7 linked regions of the Homo sapiens genome follow. The protein of the gene in region 6 purifies or fractionates together with the protein of the main gene of each other region. This does not show direct contact. Each region holds a gene or a part of one and is shown on either strand. Other genes may lie near its edges.

What was found.
Region 1: the proteins of BASP1 (region 6) and FKBP3 purify together in Homo sapiens (affinity purification with mass spectrometry, with the first as the bait; one large-scale study listed by BioGRID). This does not show direct contact.
Region 2: the proteins of BASP1 (region 6) and UPF2 fractionate together in Homo sapiens (co-fractionation; one large-scale study listed by BioGRID). This does not show direct contact.
Region 3: the proteins of BASP1 (region 6) and DCAF8 fractionate together in Homo sapiens (co-fractionation; one large-scale study listed by BioGRID). This does not show direct contact.
Region 4: the proteins of BASP1 (region 6) and PGAM1 purify together in Homo sapiens (affinity purification with mass spectrometry, with the first as the bait; one large-scale study listed by BioGRID). This does not show direct contact.
Region 5: the proteins of BASP1 (region 6) and DPYSL5 fractionate together in Homo sapiens (co-fractionation; one large-scale study listed by BioGRID). This does not show direct contact.
Region 7: the proteins of BASP1 (region 6) and USP48 fractionate together in Homo sapiens (co-fractionation; one large-scale study listed by BioGRID). This does not show direct contact.

Annotation. Positions count from the first base shown.
Region 1 is NC_000014.9:45,120,982-45,124,481, reverse strand, and holds part of FKBP3 (peptidyl-prolyl cis-trans isomerase FKBP3), read left to right. Parts: intron 1-2,861; coding exon 2,862-2,997; intron 2,998-3,500. UniProt on the Homo sapiens protein: FK506- and rapamycin-binding proteins (FKBPs) constitute a family of receptors for the two immunosuppressants which inhibit T-cell proliferation by arresting two distinct cytoplasmic signal transmission pathways. PPIases accelerate the folding of proteins.
Region 2 is NC_000010.11:11,924,310-11,927,809, forward strand, and holds part of UPF2 (regulator of nonsense transcripts 2), read right to left. Parts: intron 1-3,500. UniProt on the Homo sapiens protein: Involved in nonsense-mediated decay (NMD) of mRNAs containing premature stop codons by associating with the nuclear exon junction complex (EJC).
Region 3 is NC_000001.11:160,221,050-160,224,549, forward strand, and holds part of DCAF8 (DDB1- and CUL4-associated factor 8), read right to left. Parts: coding exon 3,393-3,500; intron 1,733-3,392; coding exon 1,602-1,732; intron 1-1,601. UniProt on the Homo sapiens protein: May function as a substrate receptor for CUL4-DDB1 E3 ubiquitin-protein ligase complex.
Region 4 is NC_000010.11:97,429,191-97,431,567, forward strand, and holds part of PGAM1 (phosphoglycerate mutase 1), read left to right. Parts: intron 1-1,188; coding exon 1,189-1,463; intron 1,464-1,764; coding exon 1,765-1,945; intron 1,946-2,377. UniProt on the Homo sapiens protein: Catalyzes the interconversion of 2-phosphoglycerate and 3-phosphoglyceratea crucial step in glycolysis, by using 2,3-bisphosphoglycerate. Also catalyzes the interconversion of (2R)-2,3-bisphosphoglycerate and (2R)-3-phospho-glyceroyl phosphate.
Region 5 is NC_000002.12:26,851,132-26,854,631, forward strand, and holds part of DPYSL5 (dihydropyrimidinase-related protein 5), read left to right. Parts: intron 1-3,500. UniProt on the Homo sapiens protein: Involved in the negative regulation of dendrite outgrowth.
Region 6 is NC_000005.10:17,224,131-17,227,630, reverse strand, and holds part of BASP1 (brain acid soluble protein 1), read right to left. Parts: intron 1-3,500.
Region 7 is NC_000001.11:21,679,974-21,682,149, reverse strand, and holds part of USP48 (ubiquitin carboxyl-terminal hydrolase 48), read left to right. Parts: intron 1-1,315; coding exon 1,316-1,342; intron 1,343-2,176.

The sequences.
Region 1 (3,500 bases), on a different chromosome or scaffold from region 6:
TGGCTCACTGCAACCTCTGCCTCCTGGATTCAAGTGATTCTCCTGCTTCAGCCCCCTAAATAGCTGGGATTTCAGGCGCCTGCCACCATGCCCAGCTAATTTTTGTATTTTTAGTAGAGATGAGGGTTTCACCATGTTGGCCAGGTTGGTCCCGAACTCCTGACCTCAGGTGATCAACCCTTCTGGGCCTCCCAAAGTGCTGGGTTTACAGGTGTGAGTAACTGCGCCCAGCTGATTGAAAGATTTCTATGCTGTATGCACCTGCTCTACTGAGAAGGTCATGGAAAAGACAAGAGTTCAAAGGCTGATAGAATTCTGGAACTTCAGGGAGGGATAGATTAAGATCCTGCATGGTTTAGGCCTTTGGACACAAAACTATAAGCAGTAATTGTTAATATCACTCTAGCAGTTGAGTAGAGGACTGACTCAAGGTGTCAGAGATAAACACAATCGGACATTAAAGTGGTGAAAACAGATTTTATTCAGCCTACTGACAGTAGGGGAAAGAGCTAAACTCCAGTCTGATTTGTGGAGGGGTAACTGGGCCTTTTAAAAGAATGAGGGGGCTGGGCCTGGTGGCTCACGCTTGTAATCCCAGCACTTTGGGAGGCCGAGGCGGGCAGATCACGAGGTCAGGAGATGGAGACCATCCTGGCTAACATGGTGAAACCCCGTCTCTACTAAAAATACAAACAAAAATTAGCTGGGTGTGGTGGCGGGCGCCTGTACTCCCAGCTACTTTGGGAGGCTGAGGCGGGAGAATGGCGTGAACCCGGGAGGCAGAGCTTGCAATGAGCCGAGATCATGCCACTGCACTCCAGCCTAGGTGACACAGCAAGACTCCATCTGAAAAAAAAAAAAAAAAAAAAAAAAAAAAAAGGAGTAGAGAGGGATTTAAGCAGAGTTAGAGAAGTGAAAAATTACATAAAGTAGGAAGTGGGGTTGGTCCATATGAAACCCATCTGAGTTTGCCAACTGGCGCTTATCAAAATCAGGCTCCCACAGAGACAGAGACAGGGGTCCTATCTTCATCTTGAGGCGTTGGCTGGAACAAACAGTAAATTTTTTTTGGCAGCCTTAAGTTTTCTTAGGCGGACACTTTAAGGAGGGATCAGGTCCTCCTAGGAATAAGGCCTTGAGCTATTTGAAACTTGTGTTTGTTCAAATCTTTATAGTCCAAGGTTGAAGGCTTGTGAAGAAGAGGTCTCAGAGGACCCTAGCTAGGGTTTGGTCAGGGAGAGAATCTTTTGCCCAAGAGGTAGACTATTTGCAAGGAGATCAGACTTTTTTTTTTTTTTTTTTAGATGGAGCCTTGCTCTGTCGCCCAGTGGTGCCATCTTGGCTCACTGCAACCTCCGCCTCCTGGATTCAAGTGATTCTCCTGACTCTACCTCCCGAGTAGCTGGGATTACAGGCACACGCCACCACATCCACCTAATTTTTGTATTTTTAATAGAGATGGGGTTTTACCATGTTGGCCAGGCTGATCTCAAACTCTTGACCTCAAGTGATCCACCCACCTTGGCCTCCCAAAGTGCTGAGATTACAGGTGTGAGCCACCGCACCCAGCACAGATATTTTTACTTACAAGTTTTGGAAAAGGATAAAACCTTCAGCTAGGGAAATGAAAGTGAATAAAAATTTGCATAACTTGACCAATTAGAAATAGATCAGGAATAGGCCAGGCGCGGTGGCTCACACTTGTAATCCCAACACTTTGGGAGGCCGAGGCGGGCGGATCACGAGGTCTGGAGTTCGAGACCATCCTGGCCAACATGGTGAAACCGTGTCTCTACTAAAAATCCAAAAAATGAGCTGGGCGTGGTGGCAGGCGCCTGTAGTCCCAGCTACTCGGGAGACTGAGGCAGGAGAATCACTTGAACCCAGGAGGCAGAGGTTGTTGCAGTGAGCCGAGATCACACCGCTGCACTCCAGCCTGGCGACAGAGTGAGACTCCATCTCAGAAAAAAAAAGAAATAGGTCAGGAATAAAGAAAACACTTTTCTCTTGCTTTTCAAACTCAGGAACTAATAGATATGAATTATTGGATATCCAAGCACACCTTTGTTATTTATTTTATGAAATTTAGAAACCAAATATAGATTTGGATAATGCAGATCCCTCTGAATTTGGTCTGAATTCAGAAACCAAATAGATTTAGGTAAGGATACTTTTAAATTCGGTACACTTCTTCTTTTTTTTAATTAACTCCCTAAGATTCTTGACAGTTCCTCTGTCTGCTTTCCTCTCATATATGAATTGCTATTGATTAGATTAATATGTAACCTTTTTTGTAGAAGACCCTGATAATCCTACTTTGTTCTAGGAAATATGCCTGTTATAGCAATTTCTTTAGGTAATTTCATCCATTGTGTGAATTTATTTTCCAAATCGGGGACAGAGGCAATATCACTGTATTCATTCTAATTGGTTATTATAAAAACACCTAGTAATATCAATTATTGCTGCTAAAACAGTTCAAATCTTTGTGGGGGGGAAGTCACCATCCCTTATTTTAATGCCTTATGATTTCATAGGAATTAAATAGTAATGATTTTTTTTAACTTTAGGAAATAACTGAAATCATGTTATGGTTTGGTGAATTATTAACAGAATCTTATTAGAAGAATTTAGGCTTCCAAAGAAGCTGGAAGTTATTTGAAATTAAATTATAGATGTGTAAGTTACTAATAGTCACATCACAGCCTTGAAATTAGATACTGAGGGTTTTGTTTGTTTATTTATTACCAAATCCATCAAACTCTTTAAACTGACTTTGGTCATTGTTGGCTATTGTTTGTCATTCTTTTAAAGGACACAAATTAATAACTCTGTGTGTGTGTGTTGTTTTTTGTTTTTAGGGTCCACCAAAATATACTAAATCTGTTCTGAAAAAGGGAGATAAAACCAACTTTCCCAAAAAGGGAGATGTTGTTCACTGCTGGTATACAGGAACACTACAAGATGGGACTGTTTTTGATACTAATATTCAAACAAGTAAGTCTAAATGGAATCTTATGTTTTTGGCTTAAAGAGATTCTAAATACTTGGGTGGCAGACAGATGAGTAGTTAGCAGTACCTTTTTCCTGACTGTCACCTACTTTCATCCAGACATACTTTCCCCCAAGATCTACTTGGAAGAGGTCTTCAGTTCACTGATTATTGGCTGGCTAAAGACCTCTTGTTCTTTGGAAAGCAAAAGATAAGGAATCTCAGTCTAAACCTGGTTAATGTCCCAAAGTAAGGCATTAGTATTTGAATAGAAAAGGCAGGATAGTATGCTGTTTTGTGATATAAGTATAGGTCCTACCCCTCTACCCTTTGTTAAGAATGTAATTATTTTTACAGCCAGAATTTTATTGATGGATGATCTTTGTAAATTTTTTCCTTCTTTTAAAATACATAGTATTGTAATTCTGAAATCAAACCACTATATTTTTCCACTGGAATTTAATAATTTCCAATGGAAATTTCTTAATAATAAATTAGAGTATATCAT
Region 2 (3,500 bases), on a different chromosome or scaffold from region 6:
GCTGACACCTATAATCCCAGCACTTTGGGAGGTCCAGGCAGGCAGATCACCTGAGGTCAGGAGTTCAAGACCAGCCTGGCCAACATGGCGAAACCATGTCTCTATTAAAAATACAAAAATTAGTCAAGAGTGGTGGACTGCATACCTGTAATCCCAGCCACTCGGGAGGCTAACAGAAGAATCACTTGAACCCAGGAGGTGGAGGGTGCACTGAACTGAGATTGTGTCACTGCACTCCAGCCTGGGTAACAGAGCAACATGTCGTCTCAAAAAAAAAAATCTTTTTTTTAAACTACTTTTTTTTTTGAGACAGGGTCTGGCTCTGTCGCCCAACCTGGAGTGCAGTGGTGTGATCTGGCAGTCTCTGCCTCCTGGGCTCAAGCGATCCTTCCACCTCGACCTCCCAAAGTGCTGAGATTACAGGCGTGAGCCACTGCTCCTAGACCTAAACTACTTTATAATCAGTTTCCAAATAAATTTCCCTTTATCTGCTGTATAACATTACTAATATTAATAACTGATTTTTTTTAATAGAGTTTCGCTCTTGTTGCCCAGGCTGGAGTGCAATGGCGCAATCTTGGCTCACTGCAACCTCACCTCCCAGGTTCGAGTGATTCTCCTGCCTCAGACTCCCGAGTAGCTGGGATTATAGGTGCCCGCCACCATGACCGGCTAATTTTTCTAATTTTAGTAGAGACGGGGTTTCACCATGTTGGTCAGGCTGGTCTCGAACTCCTGACCTCAGGTGATCTGCCTTCCTCGGCCCCCCAAAGTGCTGGGATACAGGTATGAGCCATCACAACCAGCCTTAAAATGTAAATTTTAAAAAAGGCAAAGAACATCTGGTCCTCTAAAGGGTAAAATCTCATGTTTCCATGTTTGTTCATCTACCATGTTTATCGCACCTATACTTTAGGAGCATTGACTATAAAAATTCCATTCGTGATACTTTACAGAGTGCTATTCTTAAGACTGATGGACAAGTTAGGTTTTCTTTTTTTAAGGTGCTATTTTAAGAAAAGATCTTAAAACAGGTTGAGTGGCTAGCTCAAAAGCTAGGACTCTTACAAAAAAGAAAAACAGAGGGAAGAGCTAGGGAGCAGAACTGGAATGAGAACGTTTATTCAGTGACTGAACACAGACTGTGAAAAGTTCTTTTGTCCATTCACCAAATATTTACTGAGCACCTACTAGGTGCCAGGCACCAAGAGCTGTGAAGGAGACAGAATGGAAACAACATGAGACTTGGTCCCAGCCCTCATCGCCTGTAATCTCATGGGGAATAGAGACAAGCTAAGCGGCACTTAAGGAGGACAAGGTCTGCAGAAATACCATAAGTCATGGCAGCAGATCCGCACTGACCTATGTCAGACTCAGGAACACCAAGGCAGGACCCGAAGGAGCAGGAGTTCTCCAGGGGAACAGCTGGAGACTGTTCCACACAGAGGAGGCAAAAAGAACACAGAACTAAAGGTCAGCTAGGCTGCAGCAGGAGAAAGAACAGCAGGAGATGAAGCCAGTAATGTATGTCCACCTGCACCACAGGGCCTTGGGAACCAAGTTGAGGAGTTTAGACTTTTTATCCTACAAGCCACGAGGAGCCATTGGATGATTTTAAGCAGAAGGGCACACACAGATATCAAATTTGTGTTTTAGAAAGAACACTGGGTCTATAGCGGGAGAATGAATTGGAAAGGGTTGAAGGTTGAGACGGAGAGGCTGATGAGGAGGCTGAGGCAGCAACAGCAATCCAGGCAAGAGGTGATGGTGGCTTGACCCATGGTCTTGGCTATGGGCAGAGAATAGAAAAGGCAAGAGTGAGGGCCATTTGGGAGCAGAATGCAGAGGATTTGCTAATGAACTACATTTAGGGATTGAGGGAGGAGGAGCTGTCAATAACACAACTTCCTTTTCTTTTGTGGACAAGAGGGCAGACAACGCTTCCTCTCCCTGCACTGGAGACCCTGGGGAAGAGGAGTCTGGGGCAGGGGCACGAGTCTTCCATCTCTGAGTCACAGTGGGGTGGAAAGTCAGAAATGAAAATGTGAGATCTGGGCTGGAGACCTGGATGGAAGTCAGGCCACTGGGAGGGATGACACCTCCTTTGAGAGTGCAGAAGGAGAAGAGGGCCCAGGCTGAGCCCAAGGAACACAGACATCCCTAGGCAGGGAAGCGCAGAAAGGAGGCAGTGTCAGCAGCAGGAGCCACAGTGATCGCGGGAAGGGAAAACCCAGAAGCCAGCAGAATCACAGATGCCAAGGAAGGGTCTGTTGGGAGAACAAGGAGGGCCTACAATGCAAAGTGCTGCTGAGATGAGGCCAAGAGATGGCAGGTGGGGATGCCAGTGATGGCAGAAGCTGCCTAGACCTAGGGACTGAGAAGGTGACAGGAGTCAATAATGAACCTCTTTTCTAGCATAGCCACTGGGGTGGGCAATGCCTCCCACTGCCAGCTGTGACTTGGCAGGGGTAAGCCACCCAAGTGGGAGCAAGGAAGAAGGGGCAAGTGTAGCCGATTCTTCCAAGGAGGAATTGGAGGGAGGAAGGGAAAATAGAAAGTGAAGGAACTCTGCAAAGTGACTAACACCGGTAACCAGGTTAAGAAAGGCTTACCTCTGTTCACACGCACGTCGATGACAGCACACACATGCTCACGTCGATGACAGCACACACATGCTTACATATCTCCTGCCTGGTCCTTAACAGACTCTCACCCAAGGTTTTTGAAACAGACAAATGAAGAGGGTGGAATTATCTTTCAAGTACCCATACTCGGCTTCCCTACTGGACCACAACCGTGCAGGTAAAGACCCTGTCTTGTACTCCATCTTCCACAGTGCAGTCCTGGATGAGTGTACACGGAGGGAGGCAAATCCTACTGGATGCCCCTTATGTCATCCAACTCCATAGTGAGTCTACACAAATTACTAAGACACTATACTTGCGATACATGAATTGTGAGGGGGTTAGGGATTAATAAAAACGTGCTATTCAGAGACGTTAGGCTGCAATATGAACAGGTGAAGATGATGGAAAACATCAAGATATTATGCTGGTGCAAAAGTAATTGCAGTTTTTCCCATTACTTTTATTGGCAAAAACCGCATTACTTTTTACCAACCGAAATACAAATATTCTAACAGTTTTGGTCTCTGATGATGAGACAGGAGGGAATAGATGTTATCAAGAACACTGTGGCATATATTTAAAGCTACTCTAAGAAAATGCAAAAGCAGGAAATGAACATTTTTCATTGCCTGTTAACCTAGCTAGTGTCCACATTTTAGCAGCAATAAAACAGGCTTAATTAAAGGACTTTAATAAAGTTTGGATAATTAAAAATAACCTAATATCTTATTGTGCCTAATTAGATGGGTTTACAGGTCATTTCCAACTTGGATTTTTTTTTTAAATTATACTCAACAGATGCTAAAGAACAGATCTCTAAACTGTCTTGACAAGCCAGTTTTCTACATTACAATTTGATTAGAGTTATCTGAG
Region 3 (3,500 bases), on a different chromosome or scaffold from region 6:
CTGGGGCCCACCCATCCCAAGTAGATGCCTTCCTCACCTGGGCAAATGGGTTAATCATCAAACCCTGGCATTGGCTGAGCTAAAAGCAAACTGGCCTGCAGAATGCTTTTGGAGAATGGACAAATGCTGGCCTGGGAGAGGGCATTCAGCCCTGCATCTCTCTGGAACAGAATGCAAGGCAATAGCTTATGTCAAGAAAAAATTCACTGGCCCCTTCTGACTTCCTTTCTCTAAATGCCTATTGCATAATTCCCATTAAGACTCAAGTGTTTTGGGTTTGTTCACTGCAGATGACACAGGGGGACCTATGGAAGAGTTGGAAATGAAGCAGGGAAGAGTGAGACACACCTTGAACTTCTAGACTCCTCTCCATTTGTATTCAAACCATAAAAACCCTAGATCTATGCAGGTCCCAGGTCCCTGAAATTTAGAGGAAACCAGAAGAAAATTTGAAATACCCTTTCACCAGGGCAAGAAAAACATAAGGAATGGGATCCTGATTGCAAAGAACCATTCTAAATTCTAAAACCACTCTCTGAAAAAACCTCATCAAGAGATGGCTAGGCTCTTTGAAGTTCCCCACAGCTAAGAAGGAATAAAAAGGAAGAGAGACTTAGCTGTCTCAGTCATTCCTTAGAGGCCTTGGATAACCAGACTATTCTGGGCAATCAGTATAATTTAGTCTTCCAAACTGTGTTTTTCCCATCTCCTGTGGTCCAAAAACCTTGTAACAGAAAGCGATTGAACTCCTTCCTAATTCTAGGTCTCAAAAAAAAAAAAAAAAAAAAAAAGATAAGGTTAACCAGATACATCTTAAGAGCTGATTGCTCTTCATTCCCTAACTCGATTCTCACTCTTCCTTTTTGCCCTAACTCCACAGAGGGCTGCAGAACTCAAAGGCCAGGCAGACTATGATACGATCATGGGTTATACAGCAAGCAGACTGCTCAGCTACTAAAAAACAATTGCCACATTTGCGTTCTCCTTATATGTACACATGTATATGTGTTTGTTATCTATTTGAATGTACGCATGACATTTCACCCCTAAATACTTCAACATGTATCTCTTAAGTACAAGAATATTCTAAGTAATCAAATCAATTTAATATTGAATACCATGTTATCTAATGTATAAACCATATTCTAATTTTCCCAACTGTCCAAAAAATGCTCTTTATAGCTTTTATCTGCTAATCTAAGATCCAGCCAAGATCACTACTTAGTTTAGTTTAAAGGGAAGAGACATGGAGAAATCTTTAGCCTTGTGTAGGAGGGTACGCCCTGAACACTAACGCTTTTTCATTTGGAAAAGGTGCACGTCTAGAGATAAGTTACATCACTCAGGACAGGACAGAGGTTCTTCCCTAAGATCCCTTTCTTGTCTCAATAAACTGTGCTTTACAGGGACAGAAGATAGGAACAGGAAGAAAATACTCCATCAAAAACTCAGCACCTCCAGGCTAACTAGTCTTTTATGGCTGGCTGGACCTCTAAAACATGGTATCATGTAGTCACAGTGAGAATTCAGTGTCCCTGCTAAAACCTACCTTAATGACTGGAGAGATTAGGGAGCCAGCCAGCTCAGCACACCATACTCACCACGCCTCCCTTGTCCCCCTCCATGAACTGAATAATCTGGCAGGATGATTTCTCCCAGAGGAAGATGTGCCCACAGTCACTACCGCTCACCACAAACTCACTCTTGGGGCCATAGAAATTGACGCCTTTTACTGAAATGATAAATGAGGGAAGAAACCACATGAGGGTTGGCATCAGGCCTATATACATTCATCTCAAAGGGAATTTAGTTATTCACAAACTCTAAATCAGCTAGATTATGCATGTTTAACAGATAGTTATAGGAATCACACCAGTCCCAAGAGATGATTTATATTCTCCCAAAGAGCTCGCTCCTTAGGGCAGAGGAATCTGCAGTCCTTTAGCAGCAGCCTTAGTCTCTCAAGTTTATACCCTATCAAGTAACCACAGGCCTCTCTAATCTCTTACCTGTCCCACCCTGAATCATCCCAGCTCTGCCTACTCTTAGGCAGCACTGTCTTATGGCCTAGGATTATCTTTGATATGTGGACTTCATTGGTACCTTGTCAATATTTCTGGGTCATCAGCTGATCTGAGACTGATGAAGGTATATGCCACAACTGCCTCGAGAAGCAAGTGATCTGTGCTTGCTACCATTAACAGGGCTCCACTCTCCGGAATCAGTAAAAGAAGCCAAGAGTTCCAATGACTATGGTCAGTACAATATTGGCCATGAGACTGGCACCCTTCCTTTATCTGCCTGTGTACTGAGATCCAAGAACAGATTTTTCCCTCCCTTCTTACCAGCTCAGGAAAAAAAATAAAACTAACCTCTAACTGCTATCTCCAAGACAAAATCATGACAGGTATCTGCTAGGAGTGGTAACAATAGAGAAATGATTCCTCAACTTTCCTGGACATTAGAATCATGTGGGTAGTTTTTAAAAATCTCAGTGCTCAAGTTGCAGTCCATCCCTATTAAATCAGAATATATGGGGTTAAGGCCAAACTGTTATTTTTAAAAGAACACCAGGATTGGGATTGGTGGCTCATGCCCAGCACTTTGGGAAGTCGAGGCAGGCGGATCACTTGAGCCCAGGAGTTAGAGACCAGCTTGGGCAACATGGTGAAACCCCATCTCCACAAAAAATACAAAAATTAGCCAGGTGTAGAGGCATGCACCTGTAGTCCCAGCTACTCACGAGGCTGAAGTGGGAAGATCACCTGAGCCCGGGAGGTTGAGGCTGCAGTGCCTGGGAGGTCAAGGCTGCAGTGAGCCATAATTGCACCATTGCACTCCAGCCTGGACAACAGAGTGAGATCCTGTCTCATAAACACAAAACAAAACACATCAGATGATTTCAATGTGCCCCAAAGTTTGGGAACCACAGACATGGAACAAAACAGGCCAATCTTGGGCTAGTTACTACCACCATTCCTCCTCTTCTGCCTCATCTAAAAGAATTGTTTACTCCTCCTTCCTAGAGGTATAAGGTCACTCCCTATTTTAAGCAATTCAGGACCACTGACTAAAGAGGGCTTTCCCTGACTCCCTAACAAGGCATTTGTGCTTCTTTTGAAGTTGCCTGAAATCTTAAAAACAGTTAGTCTAGCCTCCTTATGTCCAAACCAATTAGAAGCAACATTATTGGAGTGGCAAGAGATGCTCTTGAGCGCTTTCTCCTCTAGCATAGCGGAGAAAACATGAAAACTCCAGCCCAATTCAGGATAATCCCTCAGTGCCCATGGCAACACAGGCAGGTAGTTTCTATTTGTATAACCTGAGTAAGACACTGTGGTTCTCCAAAGCCAACAGGCTTGGGCCAAAGAAACCTAGGAAGACAGTCTCACCTGTGGCATTATTTCTGTGGCCCTTGTATCTCTTAACATACTGGGCCCCATCACTGTGAGAGGAGTTGAAGAGGTAAATGTCTTCATCATTGTAACTGGCCAGGAGCT
Region 4 (2,377 bases), on a different chromosome or scaffold from region 6:
CCTCCCGGATTCACGCCATTCTCCTGCCTCAGCCTCCTGAGTAGCTGGGACTACAGGCGCCCGCCACCATGCCCGGCTAATTTTTTTGTATTTTTAGTAGAGACGGGGTTTCACCATGTTAGCCACGATGGTCTCAATCTCCTGACCTTGTGATCTGCCCACCTCGGCCTCCCAAAGTGCTGGGATTACAGACGTGAGCCACCGTGCCGGGCCAAGACTGATTTCTTGGAACCTATTCATTGGGCCAACATAACTCTTGCCACAATAACTACTGTGTATGGAAGACAGATTCATTGATGAATCAGATAGTGCACAGCACTGGGTCTTTCTTTAGTGAGTGGCTTCTCCTAAACTTGGTTTAACATTTAAGTAGGTATACTCTGAGGGTACTTGGTATTAGGCTGGAACTTTGTGACTACAGTAGAGAGAAACCATGGATTAGAGTTTGTGATGTGATTTCCATACTCCACAGTGAATACAATTTCATACAATGGACAAATACAATTGCAAACAAATACAAAAACAAAATAAAATTTCATACAACAAACTGAAGTTTTATCAGTACAGGAAGAGCTCTTCCTGTGTCCTGATTGGGATTTAAATCCTAATTTTCTTACTTCAGAGTTCTAGTAAAATATCTTTTATAAGTGACAATTCCCAGTCTGGGCAACATGGTGAAACCTTGTCTCTACTAAAAATACAAAAATTAGCTGGATATGGTGGCGTGCGCCTGTATCCTCAGCTTACTTGGGAGGCTGAGGAGAAGAATTGCTTGAACCCGGGAGGCGGAGGTTGCAGTGAGCCGAGACCACGCCACTGCACTCCAGCCTGGGTGACAGTGAGACTCCGTCTCAAAAAAAAAAAAAAAAAAAGAAAAGAAAAAGTGACAGTTCTAACTGAAATGCAAACATCAGGATCCTTGGGAATTAGGAAAATGGGGATAGCTAGAGATGGTGGTGAAAAGTTGGATTCTGGAGTCCCACAGCATGGGTTTTAATCTAGGTTTTAACCCACATAATAGCTGTGACCTTGGATAGAGTGCAAGGATAAACAAAACAGTTGGCCAAATATTTTCTTTTTTGGCCAAATATTGTCATTTGGACTACTTGTACAGGAGATTGATACTGAAGAACATTTTGGCTCAGAGTAGACCTGGTTAGCTTATCACTTTGAACTTCTGATTTCCAGATGCTGGCTATGAGTTTGACATCTGCTTCACCTCAGTGCAGAAGAGAGCGATCCGGACCCTCTGGACAGTGCTAGATGCCATTGATCAGATGTGGCTGCCAGTGGTGAGGACTTGGCGCCTCAATGAGCGGCACTATGGGGGTCTAACCGGTCTCAATAAAGCAGAAACTGCTGCAAAGCATGGTGAGGCCCAGGTGAAGATCTGGAGGCGCTCCTATGATGTCCCACCACCTCCGATGGAGCCCGACCATCCTTTCTACAGCAACATCAGTAAGGTATGGACAAACAGAGGTTTGGTCACTCCGCCCAGGATCAGGGGCTTTTAGTAGTGTCTGCCTAATCTCACTGAACTTACAATTCATGATAAAATAGTTAATTGTAATCCTTCCTTCTCCAGTGAATGACCTTCACTTACTAGAAGATATGGTTGATAGTTTACTATCTCCTTTTTTGTGTTTCCATAGTCAGATTTTATAAAACCCTGTGAATGTGAATGGGCCAAAATCGATACATCATGAAGTCTTTTAACAGATGTAACTCTTAATAAGTGGTGAACTTGGATTCTTTATTGCTTAGGATCGCAGGTATGCAGACCTCACAGAAGATCAGCTACCCTCCTGTGAGAGTCTGAAGGATACTATTGCCAGAGCTCTGCCCTTCTGGAATGAAGAAATAGTTCCCCAGATCAAGGAGGGGAAACGTGTACTGATTGCAGCCCATGGCAACAGCCTCCGGGGCATTGTCAAGCATCTGGAGGGTATGTATGTTTTTTCAGAGGCGCCCTCAAGGAAGGATAAAGCAGAACTGCCACAAATCAGGGACTTGGTAAAAAGGAGTCTAGGGAAGGGCTGGACATGTTAACAGCTTTAGAGATGGTCTAGATTGACTTCTAGTGAAAAAACACCCTCAACCCTTGTTTCTCAAAATGTGATCTGCAGAATAGTGACAGCTGGACCCCCTGGGAGCTTGTTATACATGCAGAACCTCAGGTCTCACTCCAGACCTGTTTCAGAATCGGCATCTATTCCCCAGGTGATTTGGATACACATTAAAGATTGAGAAGCTCACCTCTAGATTGGTATTGTCAAATGAAACTGCTAGTGAAAATCCTCCTTAGCTTGCCAAGCACAGTGGCTCATGCCTGTAATTGCAACATTTTGGGAGGCCAAGGCAGGAGGACCACTTGAGG
Region 5 (3,500 bases), on a different chromosome or scaffold from region 6:
AGAGCTCCAATGGGAAACATGTTTTCATATTATTACCCAAAGGGAACAATTTCAGGAAGGAGTGTTTTGTTGGCTTCTTTTTTGTAATAATTTTATGGATTTTTAAAAGGATGTAATCTTCTTAAAGCACTCTGTGAACATCCATTGCAGTCTGTTCCTCATGGCAGGGAATCCATAGACAAGGAATGCCGGTATGACCAGCCTGACGTGAAGGCCTGGCTGTTGTCAGCGTAACCTCTCTAGGTGCAAACATTAGCAGGGTTGTTGCATTATTCTTAATGCTTCTATCTCTGGAAAGAGTTCCACAGCAAGGCAAGTTTACACAGTTGGCCAAAATCAGGTCTCAGGACTTGGCGTAAACTTCATTTGTGGCACTTCCACGTCTCTTCTCCTGCCATAGCTATCTGAGAATTTCCCCTTAATAGCTTCTCTGACCCAGGATTCTGTATGATCCTGCATTAGCTCCACGGGACTATAAGCCAAAGGACAGCATGACTATAGGCAGGTCTCTGGGGTAAAAGTAAATTGTGGCCAGGCACAGTGGATCACGCCTGTAATCCCAACACTTTGGGAGGCTGAGACAGGAGGATCACTTGAGGTCAGGAGTTCGAGACCAGCCTGGCCAACATGGTGAAACTCCATCTCTACTAAAAATACAAAAAAATTAGCCTGACGTGGTGGCGCACACCTGTAGTCCCAGCTACTTGGGAGGAGGCTGAGGTGGAGAATCACTTGAACCTGGGAGGCCGAGGTTGCAGTGAGCTGAGATCGTGCCACTGCACTCCAGCCTGGGCAACAGAGTGAGACTCTATCTCAAAAAAAAAAATGTGAATTGTGTGTTCAGATCATTTTCTTGGGGCATAGAAAAATATTGAGAGCCAGAGAAGTTGGACAAGAGTATCTGAGACCCAGTCTATCTTCCTGGTGTGAAAATTTACCAGTTTCTGATAGAATCTGATCTTGTGTATCTTTTTTGTTTTCTGAGGTATAAAAACATATTCCAGAAAAGTCTTCTAAGACTTAATTCACAGGAATCCTGTAGAACAAGATATCTTTGTCAACATGAAGTCCTGTAGGGAAAACTTGGTGTAATATGGGAGCAAATAAGAATAAATGTGTTTTATCATTTTTCCAATAAGCAGGTGTTTGATTTCATTGCACTGCTGGTGCATAAATGAGAAATAATTTCAAAATCGCTTTGCCTTGCTTTTTTTTATGTGAAGATGAAAGGTTGAAATACCATAACATGAATCTTTTGTGAGCTTTGGTATTTATGTATAAAAGTGGGCACAAATTATACACTTGAACAAAAGAAATTCAGGGAGGAACATGGTGTATGATTTGTTCTACTTCAGTCTTTGAAACTTGTTTCATTTAAAATAAGCTGATTTAACCATTGATTGAACCCGAGCTTGCCAAGCACTCCCATCAATCACAGCCCTGTTCTGTACTTGTTCCCTCGCCTCCCTCCTCCCTCGTCACAATCCAGGCTCAGCGGTAGCGTGTACAGGAGGGAGAGCCAGAAAGCCTGGGTTCAGATTTCACCTTGGCCACTTTCTGTTTATCTGTGCAATGAGGATGGTTGTATTAGGTTGGTGCAGAAGTAATTGCTGTTTTTGCCATTACTTTTAATGACAAAAACTGCCGTGACTTCTGCACCAACTTAACAGTATCTACATCTGGGGTTGTTCTGAGGCTTACATGTGTTAATGGTTAGCACTGAGAGCAGCATCTGGCATCTTGTAAGTGCTCAGTAAAAGTTATCATCACCATCAGCAGCAGCATCATATTCTCCCTCTAAAATGTGTGTCCACAAAAACAACACTTTGATTCCCCATTTAATCTTTCATCCCAAGGGGCCATGGCAAGTTGCTGTAGGGATTAACAGTGGGAACACAAGGAATGATTAGGACTCCTTTCTAAAACTCCCACCCTTGCAAATAGTAGGAATAGCTCTCTGTGGAGTCTGTTTCCTGGCAGCCTCTTTAAGCTCAGCTGTTTTTAGCAGCTGAGAACTTGGAGAATTAAGAGTGTTCCAGAAGTGCTGTGACCTCAGCTTTGCTGCATCATTCCTTTGAGTGGGGTTAGGCTGGCGTGGCTGGTGAGGAGCTGTTGTCCCAAGGCTATGTAATTCTTGGTGTGGGGAAGAGTCATCATGTTTGGTTGATGGCAAATTATTGGGAATAAAGAAAACTCAGGTTTTCCAGCTAAGAAATACAGAATTTTGTGCAACTTGGAACCACAGTTATTTATTTCACAAACACTTTCAAAGCACTCTGTGCCAGGGGTGGTTCTGATTACTATGCATTAGGTTACTGTTATTATCCTCATTTTACAAATGAGGCAACAAAAGTAAAAAGGACACCCAGATGGGGACATGGCAGAGCCAGGCCTTGAACTCAAGGGGTTTGATTACCATCTGTATCAGTTCTCCAGGATAACTGGAGTTCTCCAGAAAAACAGAAAATCAGTTCTCCAGAAAAACAAAACCAATAGGATTGGTTTATGCAATTGGAGAGGCTGGCAAGTCCCATATCTGTAGGGAAGGCTGGCAGACCGGAAACTAGGCAGGAGCTCATGGTGCACTCTTTACTTAGAATTTCTTCTTTCTCAGGGAAAACTCAGTTTTTCTCTTAAGGCCTTTTAACTAATCATATGAGGCCCACCCACATTATCAAGGAAAAATCTCCTTTCCTTAAAGTCAACCACCCAGCCTGGGAAACATAGGGAAACTCCATCTCTACAAAAGTTAAAAAAAATTAGCCAGGTGGGGTGGCACATGCCTGTGGTCCCAGCTACTTGAGAGGGTGATGTCAGAGGATTGCTTGGGCCTTGGAGGTCAAGGCTGCAGTGAGCTGTGATTACACCACTGCACTTCAGCCTGAGCAACAGAGCAAGACTCTCTCAAAAATTAAAAAAAAAATAAAGTCAACTGATTATAGATGTTAACCACATCTACAAAATACCTTCACAGCAACATTTAGATGAATCTTTTATTGGATAATGGTACTATAGCCTAGCAAAGTTGACACAAAGAACTAACTAGGCCAGGCACAGTAGCTCACACCTGTAATCCCAGCATTTTGGGAGGTCGAGGCAGGAAGATCACTTGAGGTCAGGAGTTCGAGACCAGCCTGGTCAATATGGCGAAACCCTGTCTCTACTAAAAATACAAAAATTAGCCAGGCATGGTGGCATATACCTGTAGCCCCAGCTACTCAGGAGGCTGAAGCACAAGAATCACTTGAACTGGGAAGGTGGAGGTTGCAGTGAGCCAAGATCACACCATTGCACTGTAGCCTGGGTGACAGAGTAAGACTGTTTCAAAAAAACAAAAAACCACAACAACAAAAAAAGAAAGAAACCCTAACCATAAAAGGATCCATGCCTTTAAACAGTACCTCAAGCTGAGAACCTTATGAGTTGGGTGTGAGATTCACAGTTAACTAAATAATTTAGCAATAGGCTATCCCATTACAAAATGCTGCACCTTACCTTGT
Region 6 (3,500 bases):
GGAGTTTGTGACCAGCCTGGCCAATATAGTGAAACCCCATCTCTACTAAAAAATACAAAAAAATTAGCCGGGCATAGTGGCGGCACCTGTAGGCCCAGCTACTTTGGAGGCTGGGGCAAAAGAATTGCTTGAACCTGGGAGGCGGAGGTTGCAGTGAGCCGAGATCGTGCCACTGCACTCCAGCCTGGGCGACACGGCGAGACTCTGTCAAAAAAAATATTGTATATATATATATATATAAAAATTAGTCAAGCTTGGTGGCGTACACCTGTAGTCCCAGCTACTAGGGAGGCTGAGGCACGAGAATTGCTTGAACCCAGGAGGCAGAGGTTGTGGTGAGCAGAAATTGCGCCACTGCACTCCAGCCTGGGCGACAGAGTGAGACTGTCTAAAAAGAAAAAAGGACGGGTGCGGTGGCTCACACCTGTAATCCTAGCACTTTGGGAGGCCAAGACAGGTGGATCACGAAGTCAGGAGTTCAAGACCAGCCTGACCAACATGGTGAAACCTTGTCTCTACTAAAAATACGAAAAAATTAGCTGGGCATGGTGGCGGGTGCCAGTAATCCCAGCTACTCGGGAGGCTGAGGCAGGAGAATCGCTTGAACCCAGGAGGCTGAGGTTGCAGTGAGCTGAGATTGCGCCACTGCACTCCAGCCTGGGCGACAGAGCAAAACGAAAAAAAGAAAAAAAAAAAAAAGAAAAATGAGTTATTCAGAGAAGATTCCAGGACACTTTATCTAATCACAGTAATAATGGCTATAGTAAATACCCAGGTGATCATCTAACCTCACCCTGCCTTCTGGGTGCATTGCAGAATTAAGGAGTGGGAAGTCACTCCAGAACTCTCTGCCTGTCCATCTAAAGTCAATCTGATTTCTCTACATTTTCCTTTTCTCCAATCATCTTACACCTAAGGCAAATACAGACACTGTGATCCTCTAATGAAATAGCTGAGAACATTAGTAAGGGTTAAAGACAGCAAATATTCCTACAGCCTCTACAGTTTCCAAGGCAAGCTCAGAGAAGGACAGGAGACCATCCTATGAAGACCCAATAACTCCGAGGAAACCTTTCTTCTCTGTCTCTTTAAGAAACAGCTAGTTCTCTCTGTCAGTGGATACTGTTTTCCCCCTTTTGATACACTATTTCCCCCATTAGATCTTGTTACTATTTACCTTGGTTATTGTATTAGTCTACGTGGTAATGGTGTTTTGAATAGACTGTCAAAGGAAAAATGAAGTGGGTCTTTTCAAAGTCACTTTGCCATGCAATTCAGGAAATTTGTAATTTAGAAAGCTCAACCAGGAAAAGTTTTTATCTAACAGCTATTTCTTCATAAACTTAAAAAAGAAGTATTTTTCTCTAATAGAACCACAGCTTTTCTTTAAAAAGACAAAGAAGTTTTAATTTTGGTTTATTTTAGGAATATATCCATTTCTGAATCTACGTAAGTGTAATAATTAAAAGCATTATGAAAATAAAAGTTACCTATTAATTGTGGGTTTCTCTGGAAAATGTAAATTCAAACCTGCTCTTATTGACCTCAATATGTCATTTTAAATGTGAAATTAAAATTGTGTCTCATCAAAAACTAAACTTATCACAGATTATCCAAACACAAATGCACACAGTTTACATTTACCAACATCAGTTTCAAACATCCCAATAGTATGCTTTAGAAAGTGTTTTAGCATCTTAAGCACTTATGTTCCATATTTTAAGGACTACTTCAGAATCTAACAGATTTTTTAAATCCTCTAAATCACCCCAAATACTATAAATGGTAATTTTAAATAAAAAAGATTAAACATCCCGTTGTATGCAGCTCTCAAACCAATAAGCCAGATAACGCTAGAAATCGGCATAAAAGCTCTCCATCCACCACCTGCCACGACAACGTGCACACTGGATCTGCCAAGAGGGCCCCGAGCATTTCAGGGGTGGGTGGGATGCCTGACTGCTCCGCTTGCTCTATAGCCCCCAAATAAGTCTAAAGCCAGCTGGCGTTCTTTTCAAACACATACCCACCATCGCCAGCTTCCCAGCCCCCAACCACTGTGCATTTTGGGAGAAAAACAAGGATTTAACTTAAATTTTAGAAAAACTAAAGTTTAGTTTTATGAAGAAAGTTATTTCAGTGCATGCCATATACTTTTTGGCATATAAAGGAAACCACGTGCACATAATGTAAGAAGCAGAAAGGAGTAAGTTGAGGGGAAGATGGCCTGTGGATGAAGTGGCAGCAGGTAGTGACTGCACCGTCCCCCTGGGGCATGTGTGGTGTATTAAAAGGCCGAAGAGGTCTCCTCTGGGGGAGATCATGAGACGGATATAGGATCCAGACTGGTTTTTTTTTTAATGGTTCTAGGGTACAAAAAAAAATGGTAGAAAAAAAAGTTTTACGTTGCAGACAGTGAGTAAGAGTGACTCAATTAGACATTCTCTGCTTCTCTCTCAGAAGAGAGGGGCAGCAGGAGTGAGGCTTTATGGGGAAATAACCTGGGTTTCCACGCAGCCCATAAGCAGCTCGTGGGACTCTGAGCAACCCACTAACTTCTCTAAGATTATTTTGAGTTCCAAAATGAGTGTTTAGTCATGAGCTTTTAAACCTTCTGCTCCAAGGAAAGTACTTACAAAGGACTGAGGTTTCGATAGTGGTTAAAAGCAGCCACTGGCTTTCTGTAAGTGGATCCTGCGTGGACGCGGAACAAAACAGATTGACCAATTTAGGCAGGACTTGGTTTATTTCTAATCAGGCAACACTAACTACACAGTGGCAGACGGTCTGCTAGAGCCTGGTCCATATCTCAGAGCAAAATTGCAGATAAGTAAGACATTTGGGGTTATGACTTCCATCTGCAATGTCCAAGGAGAAACGTGAAAGTATCAACCAAATCCACATTTATAGTCCTCAGTAAGAGCAACCACAATCATCATACTAGAAAGGAATGACTTAAGGTATTAGTCTCCATTCACTATGACAAGAAGCACCTCTAATCTACAAGCAATTTAACGTAATACTGATGAAATATTAGAAGTATACACTGGATCTCTTCCATAAATAATTTTTCATTGAAGAAGTTAGTATCGCTCTCTCTAAATTAATACTGAAGATGTCAATATGTGAAAAGGCTACCCATTTTATTCAAGAGCCCCCCTTCCCCTTTTTTCCCCCCCTGAAGAGTCCATATTACCTAAGATAAAATGGCCAAGGCTTAGGAGAAGTACAGTGTAGCTCCATCTACACGGATTGAAATCCTAGGAAACTTTTTAAAAGACATAACCACTATATCTAAAATCCCCTTCCTTACAGTGAACACCTGACAGATAGAGTAAAATATATGACTTCCCTCCAGAATCCGTAAGATACAAAAACCTGTTTAAGGAAGCTGTTAAACAACAATTTACCCAAAATGAGAGTGAATTCACCTTTGCTCAACAACAAAGTGTCCAGAAGGACAAAAGCAAATCCTTGGGCATATCCCTGAAGTAAATGTC
Region 7 (2,176 bases), on a different chromosome or scaffold from region 6:
TGATCTGTCATGCACCGTCTGCCATGATACTGTGTGAGGATGTGTTCTTCTTCTTAAACATTAAATCAAGAAAGAATCAACAGTGGACCCAGTAAATAGCAGATCAGCCTAGGATAAGATGCCCTAGAAGATGGTGAAGGGAAGTCTCAGAACTACTGTTCTTCAGCAGGCAGCGAAGACACCTGATCCATATTGGAGTGGTGGGATGCGAGCTTCAGGAAGGGATGCCACAAGGAAAAGTGGAAGGGATGATGACTGTCTTCAAGAGGTTACAGGTCTTTAAGAATTTACACGTGAATTGGAGATAAATACAGAGAAAATGAAACACATCAGTAATTCAGTAGTTACCAAGCCCAGAAAGACCAAGTCATACCATGTAGTAAATATAACCAAGGTGCACCAAGGCATTCAACTGTGACTAGTATTAATGGCGTAAAAAGTAATGCCAGCGCTGGAGACTGGCTTAACAACAACAAACACCACTTCATCAGGAGGATGGGTCGGGGCAGGTGCTATGTAAGTGGTAAAACAGCTGTTTGTATCCTTCACTGAAGAATTTATTAGATTTTTATCTAAAATTATGAAGTAGGCCAGGCACGATGGCCCACTCCTGTAATCCCATCACTTTGGGAGGCTGTGGCGGGCGGATCACTTGAGGTCAAGAGTTCGAGACGAGCCTGGCCAACGTGGTGAAACCCTGTCTCTACTACAAATACAAAAATTAGCCAAGTGTGGTGGTGGGTGCCTGTAATCCCAGCTACTTGGGAAGCTGAGGCAGGAGAATTGCTTGAACCCAGGAAGCAGAGGTTGCAGTGAGCCGAGATCATGCCACTGCACTCCATTCTGGGTGACAGAGCTGGACACCCTCTCAAAAAAAAAAAGTAAATAAAATTATGAAAAGCATGTTATTTAGAAATAGGCTAAATACCAGAAGAAGCTGCTGTGTGAGTCAAAAGTGACTCCTTCCAGAACTTGGGAATGGGAGGAGGAAGGGGAGAGAGACAGCTCCAGAGGAGTCAGTTACATGGCTTCCTCCCAGGCCACTCCTAGAGTCGTGCACTAGGTGTGCCCTAGTTACAAACCTTGTCCTGTCAGTATTTGACTTTTTAAATGATGCATACGTATTGCTTTGATAAAAACAGAAACAAAGATTGTTCTGAAATTAGTAACATCCGTAACTTCAAAGATGATTATTACAGGTGACAAAGGTAATCAAAAGTTATTTTAAACTTTTGTCTTTAAGCATTGAAATGATATTACTGTCTGTCACGACAATCTTTTCAATTTGGAATTCTTCTTTTTTTCTTTTTTTCAGTTTGTATGCCAGAAGAAGGGTTTAAAGGTAAGTTACATTTGTCATGTTTTGTTCATGAATGTCAGAGTCATCCTGTAATTTTCTGTTAAAGCGAAGGCTATAATTTGATTTTAAATTTTAATCCAATCTGAGTCTCATGACTGAAATTAATTTTAGTTAAATGCATTTCTTACTCAAGCTTCTTCATTATCTTTTTCAACACTCAGGCCTCAAATGGGGCCTCAGCTGGGGCTTTTGTGTTAGAACTGTTTCTTGCCAGATGTCCATTTGGCCTTCCCTTTCTCATTTTATGGGAGGTTGGGAAATTAGCTAGTGGCATTTCAAGATTTATTTTTAACCTTTTCCCAGTTCTTCCTATCAAGTCCCCTCCTAGAGCAAAACAGTGTGTAACTATTAAGAATTAGTGGCACAAGAATTTGTCAGGTTTTATCAAGTCCAGTGAAAAGATTTAATTAATCACTTAGCATTAAGGCATTTGTTGGATTATTACTTCAAGAGGAGACACGGTGGTGCTCGTACTACATCTGGGCCATGTAGTTGTGCACACCGATAATATTCAAGAAGTCATCAAATACAGACCTCTGACGTTTTCGGATTTTCCTGTTGCTGTCTTGATTCTTTGCTGGCCACTCCAGAAGCCCCTGGCAGGTTGTGATTTTCTAAGGAATGACTTTGAATCACATACCAGCTATTCCTTGCTAAAGCAAATGAGAGACAAATCTACTGGCCAAAATAAAGTCTTCCTCTTGCTGCAGCTGTGTTGTCTGCATGCTACCATTACAAAGGGACTCCTGATGGGGTCAAAACAAAGCAAAAAACGTCTTTATGAAAAATGGTCATTGGCCGGGCATGGTGGCTCAC